Linked DNA regions of Homo sapiens. The protein of the gene in region 4 purifies or fractionates together with the protein of the main gene of each other region. This does not show direct contact. Each region holds a gene or a part of one and is shown on either strand. Other genes may lie near its edges.

What was found.
Region 1: the proteins of MFAP5 (region 4) and EMILIN3 purify together in Homo sapiens (affinity purification with mass spectrometry; one large-scale study listed by BioGRID and IntAct). This does not show direct contact.
Region 2: the proteins of MFAP5 (region 4) and LOXL2 purify together in Homo sapiens (affinity purification with mass spectrometry; one large-scale study listed by BioGRID and IntAct). This does not show direct contact.
Region 3: the proteins of MFAP5 (region 4) and EMILIN2 purify together in Homo sapiens (affinity purification with mass spectrometry; one large-scale study listed by BioGRID and IntAct). This does not show direct contact.
Region 5: the proteins of MFAP5 (region 4) and FBN2 purify together in Homo sapiens (affinity purification with mass spectrometry; one large-scale study listed by BioGRID and IntAct). This does not show direct contact.
Region 6: the proteins of MFAP5 (region 4) and AHR purify together in Homo sapiens (affinity purification with mass spectrometry; one large-scale study listed by BioGRID and IntAct). This does not show direct contact.
Region 7: the proteins of MFAP5 (region 4) and JAG2 purify together in Homo sapiens (affinity purification with mass spectrometry; one large-scale study listed by BioGRID and IntAct). This does not show direct contact.

The regions. Positions count from the first base shown.
Region 1 is NC_000020.11:41,361,641-41,363,818, reverse strand, and holds part of EMILIN3 (EMILIN-3 precursor), read left to right. Parts: coding exon 1-181; intron 182-764; coding exon 765-2,178.
Region 2 is NC_000008.11:23,299,759-23,303,120, forward strand, and holds part of LOXL2 (lysyl oxidase homolog 2 precursor), read right to left. Parts: intron 2,406-3,362; coding exon 2,269-2,405; intron 1-2,268. UniProt on the Homo sapiens protein: Mediates the post-translational oxidative deamination of lysine residues on target proteins leading to the formation of deaminated lysine (allysine).
Region 3 is NC_000018.10:2,892,006-2,895,505, forward strand, and holds part of EMILIN2 (EMILIN-2 precursor), read left to right. Parts: coding exon 1-481; intron 482-3,500. UniProt on the Homo sapiens protein: May be responsible for anchoring smooth muscle cells to elastic fibers, and may be involved not only in the formation of the elastic fiber, but also in the processes that regulate vessel assembly. Has cell adhesive capacity.
Region 4 is NC_000012.12:8,656,327-8,659,826, forward strand, and holds part of MFAP5 (microfibrillar-associated protein 5 isoform a precursor), read right to left. Parts: intron 1-3,500. UniProt on the Homo sapiens protein: May play a role in hematopoiesis. In the cardiovascular system, could regulate growth factors or participate in cell signaling in maintaining large vessel integrity. Component of the elastin-associated microfibrils.
Region 5 is NC_000005.10:128,332,246-128,335,745, forward strand, and holds part of FBN2 (fibrillin-2 precursor), read right to left. Parts: intron 3,333-3,500; coding exon 3,210-3,332; intron 3,051-3,209; coding exon 2,925-3,050; intron 2,600-2,924; coding exon 2,474-2,599; intron 790-2,473; coding exon 667-789; intron 1-666.
Region 6 is NC_000007.14:17,333,152-17,336,651, forward strand, and holds part of AHR (aryl hydrocarbon receptor), read left to right. Parts: intron 1-760; coding exon 761-963; intron 964-1,735; coding exon 1,736-1,845; intron 1,846-2,493; coding exon 2,494-2,635; intron 2,636-3,500. UniProt on the Homo sapiens protein: Ligand-activated transcription factor that enables cells to adapt to changing conditions by sensing compounds from the environment, diet, microbiome and cellular metabolism, and which plays important roles in development, immunity and cancer.
Region 7 is NC_000014.9:105,158,777-105,162,276, reverse strand, and holds part of JAG2 (protein jagged-2 isoform a precursor), read left to right. Parts: intron 1-3,500. UniProt on the Homo sapiens protein: Putative Notch ligand involved in the mediation of Notch signaling. Involved in limb development.

The DNA.
Region 1 (2,178 bases), on a different chromosome or scaffold from region 4:
ACAGTGACAGACCTCGCCTGGCGTTGCTGTCCCGGCTTCACTGGGAAACGCTGCCCTGAGCACCTCACGGACCATGGGGCTGCCTCACCCCAGCTGGAGCCTGAGCCTCAGATTCCTTCAGGGCAGCTGGACCCAGGCCCCAGGCCCCCTTCCTACAGCAGAGCAGCCCCCAGCCCTCATGGTGAGTCTGCCCAAGGAGACCCTCCAAGGTGATTGGGTTTCTTGGGCTCAGTGGCAGGGGCAGGGAGGGGACTGATCCCAGGCTGGCTGAGCTCCGGCATGGATGGGGAGGGGCAAGCCCCAAGCCCCACTTTCACCCCACCATAAAGCTGAGGGAGTTATGCCCAGTGAGAAGGTAGGCTTAGAACAGAAAGTCTGGGCTGGGCGCGGTGGCTCATGCCTGTAATCCCAGCACTTTGGGAGGCCGAGGCGGGTGGATCACGAGGTTAGGAGATCGAGACCATCCTGGCTAACATCGTGAAACCCCATCTCTACTAAAGATAGAAAAAAAATAGCCGGGCGTGGTGGTGGGTGCCTGTAGTCCCAGCTGCTTGGGAGGCTGAGGCAGGAGAATGGCATGAACCCGGAAGGCGGAGCTTGCAGTGAGCCAAGAGCACACCACTGCACTCCAGCCTGGGCGACTGAGCAAGACTCTGTCTCAAAAAAAAAAAAAAAGAACAGAAAGTCTCTTGGGTGGCCTGGCATTGTGACAAGCTGAGAGGGTGAGGCCAGTGATGCCCCTGGGGCTCTCTTCTCTTTCCCAGGAAGGAAAGGCCCAGGGCTGTTTGGTGAGCGGCTGGAACGCCTGGAGGGTGATGTCCAGCGCCTGGCTCAAACATATGGTACCCTCAGTGGCCTGGTGGCTAGCCACGAGGATCCCAACAGGATGACTGGTGGCCCCAGGGCTCCTGCTGTCCCTGTGGGCTTTGGGGTCATCCCTGAGGGGCTTGTGGGCCCAGGAGACAGAGCCAGAGGGCCACTAACACCTCCCTTAGACGAGATCCTAAGCAAGGTGACAGAGGTGAGCAACACTCTTCAGACCAAGGTGCAGCTTCTAGACAAGGTGCATGGGCTGGCACTTGGCCATGAGGCCCACCTGCAGCGGCTGCGGGAAGCCCCACCATCCCCGCTCACCTCCCTGGCCCTGCTGGAGGAGTACGTGGACCGACGGCTGCACCGACTCTGGGGGAGCCTGCTGGATGGCTTTGAGCAGAAGCTGCAAGGCGTCCAGAGTGAGTGTGACCTGCGGGTGCAGGAGGTACGGCGGCAATGTGAGGAGGGTCAGGCCGCCAGCCGGAGGCTGCACCAGAGCCTTGATGGCCGGGAGCTGGCCCTGCGCCAGGAGCTGTCACAGCTGGGCAGCCAGCTGCAGGGCCTGAGCGTGTCTGGCAGGGGCAGCTGCTGTGGGCAACTAGCCTTGATCAATGCCCGTATGGATGGCCTTGAGAGGGCCCTGCAGGCAGTCACCGAGACCCAAAGGGGCCCCGGTGCCCCGGCCGGGGATGAGCTTACGAGGCTCTCTGCTGCCATGCTCGAGGGAGGTGTGGACGGGCTGCTTGAGGGTCTGGAGACGCTCAATGGGACAGAGGGTGGAGCAAGGGGATGCTGTCTGAGGTTGGACATGGGGGGGTGGGGAGTGGGCGGCTTTGGGACCATGCTGGAAGAGCGCGTGCAGAGCCTCGAGGAGCGCCTAGCAACATTGGCTGGGGAGCTAAGCCATGACAGCGCCTCTCCGGGCAGGTCAGCTCGGCCCCTTGTACAGACAGAGCTGGCTGTGCTAGAGCAACGGTTGGTCTCACTGGAGACTTCGTGCACCCCGAGCACCACCTCAGCCATCCTGGACAGCCTCGTGGCAGAGGTGAAGGCCTGGCAGAGCCGGAGCGAGGCCCTCCTACGCCAGGTGGCCAGCCACGCAGCACTGCTCCAGCAGCTCAATGGCACTGTGGCCGAGGTCCAGGGACAGCTGGCAGAAGGGACGGGCAGCTCACTTCAAGGCGAGATCACTCTGCTCAAGGTCAATCTGAACTCAGTGAGCAAGTCGCTCACAGGCCTCAGTGACTCTGTCAGCCAGTACTCTGATGCCTTCTTGGCTGCCAACACGTCCCTGGATGAGCGGGAACGCAAGGTGGAAGCCGAAGTCCAGGCCATCCAGGAGCAGGTCAGCAGCCAAGGCTCCAG
Region 2 (3,362 bases), on a different chromosome or scaffold from region 4:
GGGGCGGGTACAGGCTGCTCGTTCAGGAACATTCTCTAAATTTGGGGCCCCAGAAGGGCCTGGACACGAACCTTTAGCAGGCCGCTGGGCTTGCCCAAAGAGGTGCTGTGGGAAGCCAAGGCCAGCCTGGCAGCCGGCCCTCTGCTCTGGCCCAGCGGGGCTGTTCTGGGGGCCTGCACCTGGCTCAGCTGTGTCCCGCTGGGGCCCTGTGCCTTTAGCTAAGGAGGTACATGCCCTGCTCCGGGGCGGCTTGAGTTTTTTCTTTTCCACCCAACCATTCTAGCTGCCCCCTCGTTCCTGGCCCACACATGGCATGGGGCAAACACAGCTCCACATGCCAAGGCCTCCAGCTGTGCAGGCCTAGGCAGCTCCTTGGCCGCCCAGGCGTCTCGACAGTGCAGCCGTGAGGGCGGCTGGATGCAGCAAGGGCTCGTGTTGGGGACACGAGGGCCAGTGTTACGTGTGGGGTGGAGGCGGGGCTGGAAATGTGTGTCCCCCACTGTTTCACCCCACTCATCTACTGCAGACCGACATCTCACGAGGGCCTGCGGGAAGTGGCTTTAGGTTTCTGTATGTCTGTGAATCTAGGAAATGATGAGAAAGCGGATAAAGCGGGGCCACCAGGAGCCAGGAGGCCCCTTCACCCCTGCCTCTGAGCTCTGCACAGGTCCCTCTGCGTGGACGGTCACTTCCTCCTCGCCCAGCTCCCTCCTCCTGTCCTTCACAGCACCACTGATGTCTGAAGTGAAGACCACCTCTTGTGTCCCGTGAGTCCCCAGGCCGGTGCTTGTGGCACCTAAAGAAGCTCCATGTCTATCTTAAGGGGAATGTTCTTTTTGATTAATCAGAGGTATTAACATGCCCCTAATGAGTCCATTTGCTAATTGTATTGTTTAGGGGTTGAGAAAACAAAATAAAGAGTTGATATGTCTGGGGTTGGGTGGCCGTGAAATGAGGGTAATGATGATGCCCCTTCCTTGGGAGATTAAATCAAACAATGCATTCCCCAGGCTTAGGCAATTGATAGTAGTTATTAAGTGGATGGCACTGGCCAGAATACAGGGAGATACACACTCACCCAGCAAAATGATAGCAAACCTCAAACAGAAACCACCAGGCACTGTATACGTGCACATGGCCACGGCTATTCATCTTTTAAAATAAATAACTCTCTGGTTAGGCCTCTCCAAGTCTGTGGTTCTGGGCTTGTGGGTGGAAAAGTGCTTGGCTGTCTGCTTTCCAGCCTCTGAAACTGCCCAGGAATTCTCTGAAAGCCCCTCTGTGGTGACTTCTCTGAAGGTGTTGTTTCTTCAGAGGACTGTCTGTAGGTGGGGACCGTGGGCCAGGCCCTGGGCTGGCTGAATGCCCCCTCAGGAAAGCTTTCAAGGTGGAATGACACATTTCTGGTCATCCACTTTGCTAGCCAACAGGGCAAGCTGGAAAACGAGATGGGTGAGGACGTAGGAGAGAGTGAGAGGGTGAGATAAAGCTTCTGCAGGCTACGTGTACCCGTGCACTGGGAGAGACACTAGGGACACAATGCCCCTTTTCTCCCCCAGTTAGAGCCCTGGCCAGAACATGCCGCTGTTTTCAGGAAGGAGGGAAGCCAAGGCCCCCTTGTTCCTCCTCAGGGCTGGCCTTCCACCCAGAGTATGTGGAAACAAATCTCGGCAACCCCTCTGACAAAGAAGTCACCTGGCCAGGCTGTGTCTCGTGTTCAGTATTTTATTCTTATAGATTCACTTTGCATTGAGAATGGCCCCTTCTGCAGATCCTCCTCTATGAGGCAGATATTTCCGGAAGAGCTAAGTCACAGATATTTGCAAGTGACTGGCTCTTTATGAGTTTGCTTTCAGTCTTGAAAGCACAGACCAAGGCAGCCTAGGGCACTAGGAGAAATGGGGATGGTGGAGACAAGAGCTCCATAGGAGACAAGAGGTGTGGGTTGCCTGAGCATGTATGGAATAAACTGGCCGGAGGAGCAAATCTAGCCTGCTGATGAGTTTTGATTTGCATGCACCAGGTGTTAACTCAATCAAATGTGAATGCCTGTGGTGTCTCTGGTCCTGTGCACGCCCTATTTCTCAGGCCCCCATGCCTGATATCTTTGGGTTAACTGATGGACCGTGATGGCCTCTGGGGGTAGCACCTTGCCCTTTAGACAGCCTGACTTCCATGCCCCTGTGTGGACACCAATGGGAAGGAGCCTGTGGAGGTGGCCTCCCCTCCTCCCCCTGCAGGGCTGGAACCCCTTCCCACCCACCTCACCTGGAACAGGTAGTCTCCAGGGGGCACGTCAGTGATGTCAACCCACTGGCAGTCGATGTCATGGCGGTACATGTCCCAGCAGCCCATGGTGATGCCCTGATCGCCGAAGTTGGCACACTCGTAATTCTTCTGGATGTCTGCGGGCAGGGTAGAGGAGAGCTCATCACCAGGGAACCATGGCCCCACTGCCGCACCCTCTTCCTGCTTCCAAGGCCCCTACCGCTGCTTCATCTGGGCTCGGCATCCCACCCCACTGTGTGGGCTGCTCATCTGTTCTCATTTCAGTAGAACCCCCCACTCAATTCCCTACCCACATCCTGCCTCTTCTCTCAGGCCAGGCTCAAGTTCCCCTTCCTCCATGAAGCCCTCCCTGACCACTCTGATCCACCCTGGCCTTTCTGTGACATCCTCAGCCTGGGGATAACTGCGTGTGTGTGGACCGAGGAAATCTCTGGTGCCTGTGGTTTAGCAAAACGTGGGGGGTCATACTGTCTGTCTCCTCTGGAGGATCGGCAATTAGAGTGTAGGCCCATGTCTCTCTGACACTTACATGTTATCTGCACATGGTAAGAGGTCAACACCTGTCTGCTGTGTGATTTCACGGCAAGTCAGTGGCGGGCCGCTTCAATGAATAACAAATTAAACACGCATTTACTGAGAAGCTGCCATGCCTGGACACTGCTGTAAACAGTGGGTCTAGCAAGAAGAACTGACATGTCTCCCCATGAAGAGCCCCCAGGGCTGCAGGTGCACTAACAGGTGATCACAGGGCAGGTGTGGTGACCTACCAGAAGTGTGAGCAGAGTGCCACACCTGCCGGGACGGGGGGGCGCTTCAGAGGAGGGCATTTGAGATATAATTGAAGGGTGACACCTGGTGTGGTAGGGACACTTGGCATTGGGACACCAGAAAAAAGGTTGGTGGCAGCCAGAGTGGGAGGGGCATACGCATCAGGGTCTAGGCTGCTAAGCCCAGATGGAGCAGGGTCCCCAGAGTCTGGATCTTGTCCAGGAGGCCCTGTGGACCGACCAGTGCCTGTCAGCACAGCTCTGGGGAATCCGGGTGCCCTTGGAACCAGGTCATGCCCATGCCCC
Region 3 (3,500 bases), on a different chromosome or scaffold from region 4:
AAGGAAATGAGCAATTGTAGAGCAGGTGAAAACGCTGGCATGGGTAGGTTCACTAAGGTGGGTGAGCAAGAAAGGACAGTGGACACCCTGCCGTCCCCCCAGCACCCCGTGGCTCATTGCTGCAGTCAGCTGGAGGAGAGGTGGCAGAGGTTGCAGAGCCAGGTCATCTCGGAGCTGGATGCTTGTAAGGAATGCACGCAGGGGGTCCAGAGGGAGGTCTCCATGGTGGAGGGCAGGGTGTCTCATATGGAGAAAACTTGCAGCAAGCTGGACTCTATCTCAGGAAATCTTCAGAGGATCAAGGAGGGGCTCAACAAGCATGTCAGCAGCCTGTGGAACTGTGTCAGGCAGATGAACGGAACGCTCAGGTCGCATTCCAGAGACATTTCTGGCCTGAAGAATTCAGTCCAGCAGTTCTACAGCCACGTCTTCCAGATTTCTACTGATTTGCAAGATCTGGTCAAATTTCAGCCATCAGCAAGTAAGTTGAATATTACAATTCTATTTCTTGTATTTCTTTGCAGCACGCAACAACATTTTAAAAATAATTTTTTGTTCATTTTTGATATTGTTGAAACTTCATGAGGTAAAAATGTGACAGTATTATGCTAGATTTTGGACAGTTCACGGAATGAACTAAATGCCATCAGTCCTACCCAAATGTGGTTCATAGATTGGTGCCTGAATTATCTGGTGCTGAGTAGCAATAAGATAAATATATATTCTCAGTGTTAATATTTAGGAACTTCTAAAATAATTTGACAGACTGGTTGCAGTGGCTCATGCCTGTAATCCCAGCACTCTGGGAGTCAAAGGAGGGTGGATCACCTGAGGTCAGGCATTCGAGATCAACCTGGCCAACATGGCGAAAATCCGTCCCTACTAAAAATACAAAAATTAGCTGGGTGTGGTGGCACGCGCCTGTAGTCCCAGCTAGTCGGGAGGCTGAGGTGGGAGAATTGCTTGAACCTGGGAGGCAGAGGTTAAGGTGAGCCGAGATTGCATCACTGCACTCCAGCCTGGGCAACAGAGTGAGGCTCCATCTCAAATAAATAAACAAACAACATTGCAGTATTTAAGCACATGATCTACGTAATTTACAAAAATATCAGTTCACAACACATTGAAAATAAAAAAGGAAAACTGGTTCTTCCCACAGATGGATAGCCAAATATTATCTGTAGAATCAGGCTGGTGAGCTCAGAGTTGGGGTCAGATTTTTGGCATAACAGCTTGGGGCAGTGGGTGTTGTCCTCTCTTCTACCTAGGGAGTCTCCTACGTACCTCTCTTCAAGCATCACTTTTTATCTGTGTCGTTATCATCTTCAGGGCTTAGCTGATGGCAGATAGGATGCTGTCATATTTGTTTCCAGACACAGGACCGTGGATGAGAGCAGTTTAGGGACAGGAAGTATCTAAAGCTCCATAGTGCCTGCATCCAGGAAGCTCAGCAGTAGTGCTGAGAGCAATGCTGGCTACACCTTAGGCACTCAACAAATGTTTGTTGAATGAATGAATGTGAATGAATGAATAATATATGTAATAAGATTTTTTTGTTACTTGTGGGTGCTAAACGCAGCCTTCTCAAAGGACAGAGCTTCTCTTGTACCTGGGTTTGTACTCTGAGACAGCCTCCGACATAAGCTAGCCCTCTCTAGTCGGAGTCTGGGCGTGAAAGGAAGGAAGAGGGAGCTCGCGTTTTTGAACACTTTCTATGTACAGCACTGGCTTGGTCACTTCAGGGGGACTGAATCCTATCATGGCCTCACAGAAAGGCTGTTTTCCAACAGGGAAAATGTGCCCAAAGTCATGTGGCTGTTCAGTGGGGGAGCCAGGATGGAAACCAGGCCAGGCTGCGTCCAAGAATTGTTTTCTTGCAGTCCAGCCATGATGACTGTGTGTCTCCCAGAACTGAGTGCAGACTTACTTGGTCCATGGGGACTTGTTGAGGGGCCTGCTTTGTGCTAGAAGGAACCTATTCCTGACCTCCCCCTCCCTGTTTTCTTTTCTCCCATCCTTGCCTTTGGGACTTTTACCTCCCTGACCTGGTTCCGCTCTGGGTGACACAGGCCCTTGCACAAGGAACTGAGATTTCATGGCCTCTGTGAACCTTGGGATTTTATGATCAAGTCCCAGATGAGACATAAAACCCAAGGCAGCGTAGGCTAGAACGTGGGAAGCAGGCGAGCTCTGGCTTGGTCAGGGAGAGCCAGGGCCAGGTCCTGGCAGCTCAGGAGGGTGGAGAGGGTCCGAGGTAGGTGGGAAAATGCCCTGGATGTCCCCAGAGCACTGTGCTTATCTTGCAGATGACGAGTCACCTAGGCCCAGGAGGACCAGGAATCTGGCCGCCACCCGAGTGTCCAGCCCACTGCACCTCACTATTTATAACCCAGCCCTTCCCCCACTCCAGGGCCACTCAGCTCCTCTATCTCTGGAATGTTGAGTAGAGGTCACAAGACCATGTATGTGTTCATAGAATGATTGTCCCTTGTGGTGACAACGCTGTCTGGTCTGTGTCTTACGATAACAGGTTGAATCAGATATTTCCAGTTGATTTGGAACTCCCTGGTGGCGTGGGAAGCTGTGTTAACATTTTCGCATTTGTCTGTTGCAGTAGGAGTTGGGGGGTGAATTCTTTTAAAAGAGAATGTGCCATACAAAACATTATCCCTTTGGACTGAACTCATTGTGGTGAGTGTAGACTGCATGGAGTTTTGAGAATTTCATTGATTGGAAAAGAGCCAGAAATAAACAAGCAGAGCCTCCTCTGCCCTTGTCTAGCATCCAGGTCTAGGAGACCTGGAACCTGAGTATCAGAGGTGCATGGGAGAATCTGGAGCTAAGGTCACAATGAAAGTGACATGTCAATCAGTTAAAAGTCAACAGAATGTTTATTGAGTGCCTACGATGTGCAAGGCTCTTGGGGGACCTGGAGATAAGTAGGCATAATCCTTATTCTAAAGCATTTGCAATCACAGTGGGAAAGAGACTCACAGGTCTGCAGAGAGATGAATGAGATTGTTTGTGGCATAGCAGTTTATCCCTTTAGTTCATAAGCTCTTACTGAGCCCCTATTATGTGGTAGGTAATGGCTGTGTGGGGGAGTATGTGGATAAAAGTCTGATGGGGAAACAAGCAGACAGATGGTCACAGGAATGGGGTGTGGTGTGCATGAGCCACCTTGAGTGTTCAGAGAAGCACCCACAGTGGAAGTCAGGGAGGGATTCTCAGGAGAGAGCCCTGAGCTGAGCCCTCAGTGTAGGTATTTACCGAGCAGAGTACAGAGGCTGATGGGGTGAGGAATAAGGTGAGATGAGAGAAGCTTCCAGGAGGAGGTGTTACTGGATCTGATTGAGGGATGGGTGGGATTCAGAAAGCAGGAGGGGAGGACATTGTGGATTAGCTATTTATTGCTTTATAACAACCCATTCCAAATCTTGCTGGCTTAAAACAACAAAGATGTATTAGTTTCCATTATTCTGTAGGTCAGGAACCCCGGC
Region 4 (3,500 bases):
CGTGAGCCACCGCGCCCAGCCCATAATTCTGATATAATTGGGTATGAATTTGCTGATATGCTTAGGAGTGTTCATAAAAGGTAGTATTGATTTTTTTTTTTTTTTAAGAGTCTCGCTCTGTCACCCAGGCTGAAGTGAGTGGCCAGTCTCGGCTCACTGCAACCTCCGCCTCTTGGGTTCAAGCAATTTTCGTACCTCAGCTTCCCAAGTAGCTGGGATTACAGGCGCATACCACCATGCCTGGCTAATATATATATATATATATACACACACACACACACACATATATATACACACATACACACACACACACACACACACACATATATATATATATATATATTTTTTTTTTTTGAGACAGAGTCTGGCTCTGTCTGTCGCCCAGGCTGGAATACAGCAGCGCACGATCTCGGCTCACTGCAACCTCCGCCTCCCGGGTTCAAGCAATTCTCTGCCTCAGCCTCCAGAGTAGCTGGGATTACAGGCGCCCGCCACCACACCCAGCTAATTTCTGTATTTTTAGTAGAGATGGGGTTTCACCATATTGGCCAGGCTGGTCTTGAACTCCTGACCTCAGGTGATCTGCCCGCCTAGGCCTCCCAGTGTGCTAGGATTACAGGTGTGAGCCACTGCACCTGGCCTGTTTGCTAAATATTTAAATGTTTGCTAAGAGAGTAAATTTCAGGTGCTCTTATTATACACATACAAAAAAGGAAACTAATGAGGATATGGATATGTGAATTTGCTTGACTGTAGTAACCATTTCACTTTATACACATCTATCAAAATGTCATGGTGGATACTGTAAACACATACAATATAATTTATATGTAAATTAAAAAATAAAAGTAAATGTTAATGCTGTTTTGTTATTTTGCTTTTTAAAGTAGAGACCACTGGTTTTAGGAAGTGCTATTATTTACAGTTTCCTGTAAATACAAAATTAGCCTGGCGTGGTGGTGCACGCCTGTAATCCCAGCTACTCTGGAGGCTGAGGCAGGAGAATCGCTTGAACCCAGGAGGCAGAGGTGGCAGTGAGCTGAGATCGCGCCATTGCACTCCAGCCTGGGTGATAAGAGAGAAACCCTATCTCAAAAAATAAGAATAAAATAATAGTAATAACAATAAAATAAATATTAAGCAAACATTCCATCAGCAATTACCCTTCAATGTAAATAGCTTATATTCATAATCCATTCTACCCACTAGGGGTCAGCAAATTCACATAGTTTGCTTTGACTTTTTTTTTTTTTTTTTTTTTGAGACGGAGTCTCGCCCTATCGCCCAGGCTGGAGTGCAGTGGCGGCATGATCTCGGCTCACTGCAACCTCCGCCTCCCAGGTTCAAGTGATTCTCCTGTCTCAGCCTCCTGAGTGGCTGGGACACAGGCATGTGCCACCATGCCCGACTAGTTTTTGTATTTTTAGTAGAGACAGGGTTTCACCATGTTGGCCAGGCTGGTCTTGAGCTCCTGACCTCAGGTGATCCAACCACCTTGGCCTCCCGAAGTGCTGGGATTACAGGCATAAGCCACCATGCCCGGCCTGACTTCTTTTTTTAACTTCAGATTCTATTAATAAATGTCAAATGTAAATCTGATGGGAACAAATATTTTTATAAAGCATATCAGAGTTATGGATAATTATAAAAAAGGTGAAATACAAATAAAGCATTTCATAGGAATTTCCCTTGCTTACCTCATCCTGTTTTCTAAATTCCAGATAGAAATTCATCAGGTTTGGCTGGGCTTCATGGTTCATGCCTGTAATCCCAGCATTTTGGGAGGCCAAGGCATGCGTATCACTTGAGGTCAGGAGTTTGAGACCAGTCTGGCCAACATGGTAAAATCCCATCTCTACTAAAAATACAAAAATTAGCTGGGCATGGGTGGTGCATGCCTGTAGTCCCAATTACTCAGGAGGCTGAGGCAGGAGAATGAATTGAACTCAGGAGGCGGAGGTTGCAGTGAGCTGAGATCTTGCCACTGCACTCCAGCCTGGGACAGAGTGAGACTCTGCCAAAAAAAAAATTCATCAGGCTTGACAAAAAAGCCTCTTAACCTTTCACACTCATTATGGGCTTTCTTCTTTCAGAACACTTTTTTTTTTAAGTAGGATGTCATTGATTGGAAGAACAATCTTTTAACAAAAGGAATCCAAGTCTGTTCCAATCCCACAGGATATTTGAAAAACCACTAACCTGAATCATTCCAGAGACTGCAGGAGAGGAGTGGAGCCTCTCCCGGGTGTAGCCCAATCCTTCCTGGTTCCCTTTCTCTAGAGGCCTAGCTACATTCCAGTCCAGCCACTCACAGAAACAGGAGCAAAGCAATGGGGGAACAGAGGGCTTGAGAATGTATCCTAGCTGTCTCTGGGATTTCAGGGCAGAGTACTGCTTTTCTGCATATACCTCAGTTTAACCAACTGTTCCAAGAGCTATCACCATATAAATGCTTTATCTAGTATTCATGAAGTTCTCTCTGAAAAAAAAAATTAACGTATTTTCTTTTCCTTTTCTTTTTTTGAGAGAGTCTCACTCTGTTGCCCAGGCTGCAGTACAGTGGTGCCATCATAGCTCCTTTGCAGCTTCGAACTCCTGGGCTCAAGCGATCCTTTCACCTCAGCCTTCTGAGTAGCTAGGACAACCAGCAAACCACCACACCTGGCTTTTTTTTTTTTTTTTTTAAGAGATAGGGTCTCAGGCTGGCAGCAGTGGCTCACACCTGTAATCCCAGCACTTTGGGAGGCCGAGGCCTGCAGATCATCTGAGGTCAGGAGTTTGCGACCAGCCTGACTAACACGGTGAAACCCTGTCTCTACTAAATACAAAAAATTAGCCAGTTGTGGTGGCGCATGCCTATAATCCAAGCTACTTAGGAGGCTGAGACAGGAGAATCACTTGTACTTGGGAGATGGAGGTTGCAGTGAGCCGAGATCGCGCAATTGTACTACAGCCTGGGTAACAAGAGCGAAACTCTGTCTCGAAAAAAAAAAAAAATAAAAGGGTCTCACTATATTGCCCAGGCTGATCTCAAACTCATGGCCTCAAGTGATCATCCCACCTCAACCTCCCAAAGTGCTTGGTATTACAGGCATGAGCCACCACACCAGGCAAGACAGTTCATCATACCTTATGATATGTCTGCGAGAAAAGCATCTAAAGTCTTAACACAGGACTGGTTCCTAATCAGCCCAGAAAAATGAATTCCGATTTTCAGTTTTGCTGGTACTAAAATCTCGGGAGGCCTTTCCCCTAGTCTGAAGTCTAGTCACATTCCTGCCCTTTTTTCCTAGATTCAGATTTAGATTCAGAAACTCGGGGATTCGGGTATTTTTACCAACAACAGAAAAAAAATTTTTGTATTTTTATCTTCTGTACCAGGACCCACTGCAAGAAAAATATACTGTACCCTGGTATATACATATGGAAAACTAAGAGAAGTTTTATTAAAGTTGTATGAAATAATACTTTACTCTTGCAAAACACATGCAATGCATCCC
Region 5 (3,500 bases), on a different chromosome or scaffold from region 4:
ATTGACCTAGAAATTCTTACTAGTTGGAAAAATGCTTTATTGTAAGGCATGTGAAACACTAAGCATATTACACAAAACTGTGAATGACACTCAGGGTATATTCTAGTCCCTTCCCTCTCAGATATAAAAGACTTCTTAGACTCTGGCTCAAGAACCATAAAACTTGGAGAATTTGCCTATTTTTTTTCTTCAAATAAGACCTCTTGGAATGCAAGAAAGCATTTACAATTTCCTGTAAGAAGAATTCTATTTTCTAATAAGATGGTGGTATTGATGACTTACTAAAAAATTAGGTTATCTGAAAAAACCTTTTCATTGCTCTCCATTTATTCCACTGGATTTTAAATCTCACTGATTACTTCTTTGAAAAGATTGGAAGAACATACTAGTCATTTTTCATCATACAGCTGTGTTTGGATCACCAGCTGCATATCAATTTTTACTGAACAAAAACACATTAAAAAACAGGTGCCAAGGCATACTGTTGAAATTTTGATAATTTATATTAAGGGTAAAGGACACCCTTAGGCAGGAATTATCTTGCAACTAAGATAACCTTTTTATAAAGGAATTAATAAAAGTGAAGAGCATGATTCTACAACCATGCAAAAAAGAGCCTTTAAAAATTTGTGCCTTAGCAAAGGATATTTACATTTGCAAACTCACCAATACACTTGATGCCGTTTCCAATCCAGCCTTCTCTGCAGCTACACTTGAAGCTTCCTGGGATATTCAGACATGAGGCATGCATGTCGCAGTTATGAGCACCAATTTCACACTCATCCACATCTGATAAACCATAATTCATAAGAAGAAAATCAAAATACAAACTAATTAATTCTACTTCCAAGTATATTTTTGTATAGGTAACATTTTAAAGTAAAGATGCAACCGTATGGAGAAAAGAGTAGCCTAACTAACTTTTATTTTTAATTTTTGTAGGCTCCAAGAGGACTTGGAAAATTCATGATCCTAATAAAACAAGTTCTTCCCTAGAAACAACTGTCAGCCACTTTCCAGTAGAAGAGAGAGAGACACAGCAGTGTTGCTCCCCGGCAGGTATGTGTATTATCCTGGGGCCTTCTTCCCTGCCCAGATTCAGACACAACACCATAAAGAGGACATTCGATTACAGATCAAGAGAAATCTTATTTCCAATAATAGATGGTGCTATTCCTTCCTATTGATATTTATTACATATTTTTCATGAAGATAAGAATCTAACTTTTTAAAAAAAGTAATAGTTTATTCTCTTTAAAATTACATGATCATTTGTCATTTAAAAAATCAATATAAATATTTTACAGAATTTAAAAAAAACTATTCATTTAGGTGTATATTTTTATTTCTTCTACTTATTTGAGATTATAGAAAAATATTCACTGGGAATGTTATCTGGAAAGTAGCCAGATGCTTTCGCCAGTGTGTGTGTGTGCGTGTGTGTGTGTGTGTATTTGTGTGTCTGTATACACACACACATATCCCTATATATGTATGTATAACCTATGTAGATTTGGTTCTCCAAAGCTTTCTTGACTATAAATAGTAATGTGTTCTATCTAGTTCAACGATTACATATTATAGATGCTGAAATCACACACACACACACACACACACACACACACACACACTACTGGCTTCACATCAACCCTGTCAGTGGTGAACATGCAAAGAACACCTTCTTTTATAATCTGCCCCTTACTGGAGGGGTCAGCTTAAGGGCTGGGTTGGACTCTTAAGTCTTCCACCACCTGCCTTGAAAAAATATCACACATAAGTCTTAAATTGTGCACTGAGGAATACGTGATCCAAAACCTTGACCCCGGCACATCCTAGCCCCACCTGCATGCAAAAGGCTAAAACTAGTTAGTAGTAGTAGTAGAGAAAGGGAACAAAAGACAAAGTGAGCAAAGTGAGCAAAGAAGGAAAGTGAAGAGAGGAAAAAGAGAAAGGCAATTTGGGCACAGAGAAGAGAAGACAAAAGCAAACAGAAGAGCAAACAAGAAAGGAAAAGATGGGAGAAAGGAAGAAAGGGAAAGAGTCTCAATGAAACTTGATTAATTTTTACTAGTTTAAAAGAAGTGCAGAGGTAAATGGCAACCGGGATCCTCGGGTCTTTTGGTGCTCTTTGTACATGAATGTCTTCCAAGCGGGCAGCAGTCATACTCAGAAAGTGACTGATGCTGCATGAACGACCATAAGTGGTCAGGGCCATGGGAACCAGACTGTACTCCTACTCACTCACTCTGTCACAGCCCACAGCCAGCCCCACGGTGGGTGGCTCAGACAGCGTGCTACCACAGAGACCAGCCAAATCCATCACACATCCTATAGGTCACACACTCATCACACACACAGTCACAGTCTGGTGGCAGGTAACCGCTCTAAGAGATGCCAGAGAACAAATGATGTTGAAAGTTGGCCTTTGACATCTGAGAAGTTGAAATACAGAGAACACAAGCTTGAAACCTACCTGTACATCCTGTGGTCCCCTTCTTCACTGAGTAACCCAGCTGACAGTGGCAAATGAAGGATCCCTTTGTGTTCTCACATTCCCCAAACATGCAGATATTTGAATTTAGGTCACATTCATTGACATCTAGAAAATTTATTTTCAATATCTTAGTATGTGCTCATCACAGTAATTTAAAAGCTATCTTCTACACTGAATAGCATAATACTGAAATACACAGGCAAGATCTAAAATATAATCCATCCGCAAATCATCGTGTTATAGATAAATATACAACCTGCCTTTAGACATTTTTAAAAGTAATTCTTCCTGAGATTTTACAGTTCTAGTAAAATGATTTGAATTTTTAAAATAACAACAGAAAAAGCCTTCCTTTTATCACGCTTGTGTGTGCATGTGGGTGTGTGTGCATGTGTGTGTATAAATGTTTATCCTTTCTTATGATACCCACCAATGCATGTTTTCATGTCCATGGAAGCCATGAAGCCATCATAGCAGAGGCAGCGATACTCTCCAGGAATGTTGGTACACTGGCCGCCATCACAGATATCAGGATTGTTTTCACATTCATCAATGTCTGATGATACAAAATTAGCATCAAATGAAAATAAAAATGTCGTTCATCAATCTCAAATGTTTTTGTTTTCTATCTGGTTCCACTTGGTAATATCTGGAGCCATATTTTCAAGAAAAAATTAGTTAGATGTACAAAACCTGTGTGTTTTCCTTTCTATACCTGCACACGATCTCCCATCTGGCATCAGGGCATAACCCTCACTGCAGCTGCATTCGTAGCTTCCCTCTGAATTTGTGCACTGGGTGTCACAGCCTCCGTTCATTATCATACATTCATCAATATCTGTGAAAACAGCATTGCAACCACATTGTCAGGTCTGCTTCCTTAAAAGGAGTTTTCTTCTTTTTAAACAGATAATGCTAATGTGGCTTTGAATTTTTCTCCCCACTATGTGTGTTGATTGAACATTATCTTTCTTAGTTCTTTCACCTTCATTTTAGGCAGCATTCC
Region 6 (3,500 bases), on a different chromosome or scaffold from region 4:
CACAGGATAATGAAATTGCCTAAGGACACATTTCACAGAACATGCCCCTTTTGTTAAATGACATGTGAGTGTATGTCTGAGGTGGAATATCTGTGTGCAGGAGGGCCTTTTCCTCCTTGTGCTGCTATTATTTTGATGTCAGAACCATCCCTTGGACTGGTTGATATTGTTTTAAGCAATTAAATATATCATGTTCATGTTTAAGTGCCTTTGTTTTCCCTGTCTTCTAAATTTCTTCCATATCTTTACTCAGTAGGGCTCTGCATTCTTTATATGTTTTCATGATGATTCATTTTAGTGTCTTAATAAAATTATATTTTGCCTCTATAGAAAAGATTATGAACTATGCAGTATGCTATGAGCTGTGATATAGTTCATGTATGCTTGAAAATGAATGTTTACTTTAGGACTTTATCACCATTCAGGATATATTGATTGCCTGGTGTGCAAGGAGCTGTGTGAGGTGAAAATGATAGGGTAATGGCAAGCTTGGAAAATGATATAGGTTTTCATGTTATGACCATTAGGAACAAGGAGTGGTTCACTTATCCCTTTAGAATATTTTTCATATTACTCTTTGAGATAGATTTAATGGGCGTCCCATGGAGAGAGGAGTGAAGGAAACTAACAGTTCTCAGCTTCAGGAATATTTATGGAATTATCAAGAACCCTAGAGGCAGCCATAATGGAGCCTTTTAAAAAGGCACTATTTTATATTGTTAATTTTAATGAACTTTTTTGTTGTTGTTGCTTTTTTAAGGCAATGAATTTCCAAGGGAAGTTAAAGTATCTTCATGGACAGAAAAAGAAAGGGAAAGATGGATCAATACTTCCACCTCAGTTGGCTTTGTTTGCGATAGCTACTCCACTTCAGCCACCATCCATACTTGAAATCCGGACCAAAAATTTTATCTTTAGAACCAAACACAAACTAGACTTCACACCTATTGGTTGTGATGCCAAGTAAGTGAGACTTTTTCACTTTTATTTTATTGGATGTACATTATGTTTCAGTAAGTCTCTCTTAGCATGTAAAACATACAGTGTATGTAATATTGTTTATTATTAGATTGGCTATTATCGTACATTCTTCCAGTGTAGCCTTTTACAGTAAAATAATTTAATCAGGCTCACAAATCATCTTTTTAATTTTTGCAATACTTGTCTCAAATGATGATGTTCTTATATATTAGTAAGGTTTATTCTTCTGATGACATTTATGTTGGTTTGTTTTACATTTTTAAATGGCACAAATGTTATTTGATTTCTAGCCCCAGAAGTTTTAGTAACTTTCAGAAAATTGTGAGCAGGAGTCTGATATTAAACATTTATATCATATCAAACATATCAGTGCTTTTCTCCTTTCTAATGTGGGAATGCAGAGAGGTAATTAGAAAAACCTTCTTCCCTAAAAATAGATTATAAAAACATTCCAGATTTTTATTAAAGATGTTCTGTTACCCATACATCTGCTCTATTAGATTCATTTTTAGCATACTAATTTCCATGGATTTATTCAGGAAAAGAAAATAGGCTGAAACTGAAATTTGCAATCATAAGCAAAGAAGATCAGTTTACATGGATGTGTTTAATTTCACATCTACTTATGTGAAATTCTAAATGTGAACTAAAACATATTGCAGAAACTAGCGTAAAACCAATGAATTTATCTTGGTTATTTCATTTATGTTAAATCTTAATCCATTCTTATTTTACCTTTTTTTATTTTAAACAGAGGAAGAATTGTTTTAGGATATACTGAAGCAGAGCTGTGCACGAGAGGCTCAGGTTATCAGTTTATTCATGCAGCTGATATGCTTTATTGTGCCGAGTCCCATATCCGAAGTAAGTTGTAGTTCCTTATGAACATGTCAGAAGAAAACGGCATATACTGTTGTACATGTTTCAAATTCTTACGTAATGTAAAGTGTTTAAGTAAAGTATATGGATAAACTTCTACTTAGTAACATATCATTATGATTAACCAGGGTTACACTCTTTGTTCATTAACTTGTCTACACCTGCCATGTAGAAATATTGTTGTTTAGTTATTAAAAAATGACCATTTTGGCCCATGAAGTTTTGCTTGGGAATTTTTTAATTACATCGTTATCAATTCATAAATCTATGTTAATATTGTAACAATAATAGTGTTAATAATTCTAGTTTAAAATTATAAAGTATTAGGCTGTAGGAAAATATTCCCTATTTAAAATGAAAATAATTTTTTCCCCAACTTATGTTCTCTCTATACTTTCCTGTGTTACTAGAATTGTTTGGTACATAATCTTCCCTTTAACATTTAAAATAATAAATTTAAAACAACTCTGAAAAACTATTTCCATGCCTTTTATTATTTTTTGTTTAAAATTTATTGTCTTTGGGGATAAAGGAAATACATCCAGAACTATGTCACAAGAGCTTTGTTTTAGGAATAATCTTTACTATATTGATTTGGGGGTTTGATAATTTAATTTTTTAATTTTATTTTAGTGATTAAGACTGGAGAAAGTGGCATGATAGTTTTCCGGCTTCTTACAAAAAACAACCGATGGACTTGGGTCCAGTCTAATGCACGCCTGCTTTATAAAAATGGAAGACCAGATTATATCATTGTAACTCAGAGACCACTAACGTAAGCACAAATAATGTTTCCTGTTTTAACAGTTTTGTTTTCATAAGTCCTCTTATGTGAAAGCATAAAAATAATTCAAGCAGACTTTAGTCTGTAAATAAAAATTGAAAAGTTTAATTCATCTAGAAAGAAGAGCACAGGTGAGAGACATTGAGAAGATAGAATTGACGAACTTGATTGAGAGCTACATGTGCAGAGCTATAGAAAGAATAATAAAACTCTAGGGTTTTATCTTGGGCATATGAAAGACACATGAAAAGCTAGTGTCATTGGTAAAAAAGAAGAAAAATATAACAATGCTTTATTTAGAATATATTCTCTAAACCCAGCAGTGATTTTAAGAGTTTCTTACACATGCTGCAGATGAGTCCTTTATCAAATATTTGTATTGCAAATGTTTCCTCCCACTCTGGAGAATTGATTTTTGTCTGTAGCTTGAGGTAAGGATTGATTCCCCCCAGCCATTATACGTATACCCAATTGACCAGTAACATTGAAAAGATGATTTACCGAGAAGGTCATTGTTTCCCGGCTGCGCTGTATTTTGATCAGGGGATTTTGTCTGTGGTTCTCTGTCTGGATTGTGTTGTTCTATTAATAGCTCCATTAGTGCAGTTGTCTATTTTGTCTAGCATTACACTGTCTTAGTTATTCTATCTTTATTATATATTTCTATGTCAGAGTGTGTCATTTTGTTTGTTTTGCCTTTTTTGTTCTCCTTCAAGATTGCCTTGGTTCTTCTTTGCCCTCTATAATTCCATATACATTTTAGAAAGCAGTTGTCTGAAAATCTGTTGAGATTTTGAGTGCAATTACCTTGAAACTGTAGATCATTTGGGGAGAATTAACATCTTTTTAATACTGA
Region 7 (3,500 bases), on a different chromosome or scaffold from region 4:
GCCGGGCTTGTAGGGAGAGGCTTAGCTGGGCCTGCAGGGGTGAAGCCCTTCCCCCTTGGCCTCCAGAGACTGGGCAGGGGCATAGCCCTGCTAGGCTGGCCTTGAGGGAGGGCCTGGGTTCCTCTCCCTGCTTGCCGGGGAACCTGGGCAGGTGATGGGTCTCTCACCTGTCCCCAGACCCCCAGCCCACACATCGCCTATTGCCCCTGCCAGCGCCAGGCCCACATCCCCACATGTCCCAGCCCCGTTCCTAGAAGGGCAACATGCCCGCCAACCCCCGCCCAATCCAGGCCCTATAGTCCCTCCTGTGTTCTAGGGGTTTGGTGTTGACAAAACCCTGTCCCAGATCGTGGCCCGCCAGGCAGGAAGGACAGGGGTGAGAGGTTGCTATTCGCAGAGGAGGCAACTGAGTCCTGGAAGGACAGGGGTGAGAGGTTGCTATTCGCAGAGGAGGCAACTGAGTCCTGGAAGGACAGGGATGAGAGGTTGCTATTCGCAGAGGAGGCAACTGAGTCCTGGAAGGACGGGGGTGAGAGGTTGTTATTCACAGAAGAGGCAAATAAGTCCTGGAGGCTGGCCCCTAGGGAAGAAGGGGAGCTGGGAGAGCTGGCAGGTGGGGTGAGGCAGGTACCGCCCCGTCAGCCAGCTCAGGTTCACTCTGGATGACTTCCTGCCATCCAGGTGTAGGGACCCCAGCTGGCGGGCGGTGAGGCCCTCTCGGCGGGCGGGCAGGCACACGTCCCTGCGGGAGCAGGTAACCGGAGCCCTGGGCTCAGGCGAAGGTGGCAGTAATCTTACCTGAGTGGCTGGCATGAGGTTTCCTGGGAGTCGAGAGGAACTCCCTGCTGGCCCTGAAGCCCAGGTGTGGCTGTGCCGGGAGACCGGGTGGCCTGGCTTTTCTCTGCCTGCCCCGTGGCCAGAGCTGCTCTCAGACCCATGCTGGCCCCATCCTCTGACCTCACTATTGCTGCTTCCTGGTCCTGCTGGTTCCTGTCCAGCGGCTACAGTGACTGTTAAAGCCTGGTGGGTCCCAGTCCTCACTCAGACCCCCAACAACAGACCTCACTCAGACCCCCAACAACAGACCTCACTCAGACCCCCAACAACAGACCTCACTCAGACCCCCAACAGACCTCACTCAGACCCCCAACAGACCTCACTCGGACCCCCAACACCCGAACAGACCTCACTCAGACCCGCAACAGTCACCCACTTCGCTTAGCCTCAGGAAGGAAGTCCGTGGTGGGGTCTGGATCTGTGGTATGACCCCACTGTCCCCGTGGGCTATGCGTTCTCAGCCCCTGGGCCTTCTTGTGGGCTCTGCCATGCAGCTCCTTCACTTCCTCATGCCCTGCAGCCTCAATCTCAATGCCACCTGTTCAAAGCCTGGCCTGGCCTTTTTTTTTTTTTTTTGAGATGGAGTTTTGCCCTCGTTGCCCAGGCTGGAGTGCAATGGTGCGATCTCGGCTCGCTGCAACCTCGGCCTCCTGGGTTCAGGTGATTCTCCTGCCTCAGCCTCCAGAGTAGCTGGGACTACAGACACCTGCCACCATGGCTGGCTAATTTTTATATTTTTAGTAGAGATGAGGATTAACCGTGTTGACCAGACTAGTCTCGAACTCCTGACCTCAGGTGATCTGCCTGCCTCAGCCTCTTAAAGTGTTGGGATTACAGGCGTGAGCCACTGTGACCCGTTGGCCTGGCCTTATTGGAACAACAGCCCCTGCCCCCTGTTGCTTTCCCCGAGCCCCGCTGGCTATAGGTTGCCGTCCTTGGTGGCAGAGGCATGCCTGCTGTACACTTGATGTGAACGAAGGAAGGAAGGAACGAAGGAAGGAGCCAAATGCCAGACGCCTGGGAAGCGGCTGGGTGCTCCAGGTGTTACCGGGGGTGGGGAAGGGCTTGGCCAGGTGCAGCTGCGAGGGTGGTGCTCCAGGCAGATGGGTTGATAGGCTGGGGTGGGTGGGTGGGGGTGGGCAGGAGCCTTGGGAACCCCAAGGGTGCTCTGAGCTGAGAGGGCGTGGACAGAGTCCTGGTGGGGGTGTGGATGGAGCCCTGGGGGGTGTGGATGGAGCTGACGGGGGTGGTTTGTGGACAGAGCCCTTGGGGGGTGTGGACACAGTCCTGGGGGTGGTGTGGACAGAGTCCTGGGGGGTGTGGATGGAGCCCTGGGGGGGTATGGATGGAGCATGTTGGGGGGTGTGGATGGAGCTCTGGGGGGGTATGGATGGAGCCCTGGGGGGGTGTGGATGGAGCATGTTGGGGGGGGTGGACAGAGCTCTGGGGGGGGTGTGGACGGAGCCCTGTTGGGGGGTGTGGATGGAGCATGTTGGGGTGTGTGGATGGAGCATGTTGGGGGGTGTGGATGGAACTCGGGGGGTGTGGATGGAGCTCTGGGGGGTATGGATGGAGCCCTGGGGGGTGTGGATGGAGCATGTTGGGGGGTGTGGACAGAGCTCTGGGGGGGGGTGTGGACGGAGCATGTTGGGGTGTGTGGATGGAACTCTGGGGGGGTGTGGATGGAGCCCTGGGGGGGTGTGGATGGAGCTCTGGGGGGGTGTGGATGGAGCATGTTGCGGGGTGTGGATGGAGCCCTGGGGAGGTGATGGAGCCTGTTGGGGGGTGTGGATGGAACCCCGTTGGGGGATGTGGATTGAGTTCTTTGGGGGTGTGGATGGAGCTCTGGGGGGTGTAAACAGAGCTCGGCGGGGGGTGTGGACGGAGCCTTGGGAGGCATGTGGATGGAACTCTGGGGATTGTCTGGCGCCTGTAGGCAGAGGTTTGCGGGCCCTGGTGACCTCAGGGAGCCCTGGAGATGGGCGGGGACTGGGCCCCGTGGCCTGGCGGGGCCATGGCGGATGTGGGAAAACGGGTTTAAGGGGAGCTTAAGAGGTGGGATTGAGGGTCTGTTGTCAGCTCGACGTGGCTAGGGAGGGTTCTAGGAGCGGGTTGGGGATGGCCCCCCACTTCCATCCTGTGCTCCTACCTGGGTGAGCCTCCTCGGGCCGTCCCCGGGTGTTCTGCAGGCAGGGGCTCGGGGGCGGGGCCGGGGTTGCCCAGCTGTGAGTGAGGCCCAGGGTCAGCAGTCATGTTGGGCCCTAGTTGTCTGTATTTGAGGGACAGTCGGAGGTGTGGGGCGGGGGACTGGGTGGGGGTCCTGGAGGCTGGGCTGGGTGTGGCTGGTAGCACGTTGGTTAGGGGAGGGGCTGGACGTGGGAGTGCAGTCTTCTGAGACATCTTGGGAGGCCAGGCCTGTCCTTAGCTGGATGAGGCCGAGGCACTGGGACGTGCGTGGGGTGGGCGGCGGGTGAGGACCAGGGAAGGGCTGGCAGGCGTGGGGTTGGGCCTTGCTGGGGAAGTGTGGTTTTCCCCAGCTTAGCCAGGCCTTGGGGCTGGTTGGATGGGGTGTGCTGAGGGATGGAGTGAGCCTGGCCTGCCTGGACACTGCCCAACGCAGCATCCCCCCGGGGTGGGAAGCCAGCAGGCCCTGAGGTGACTCA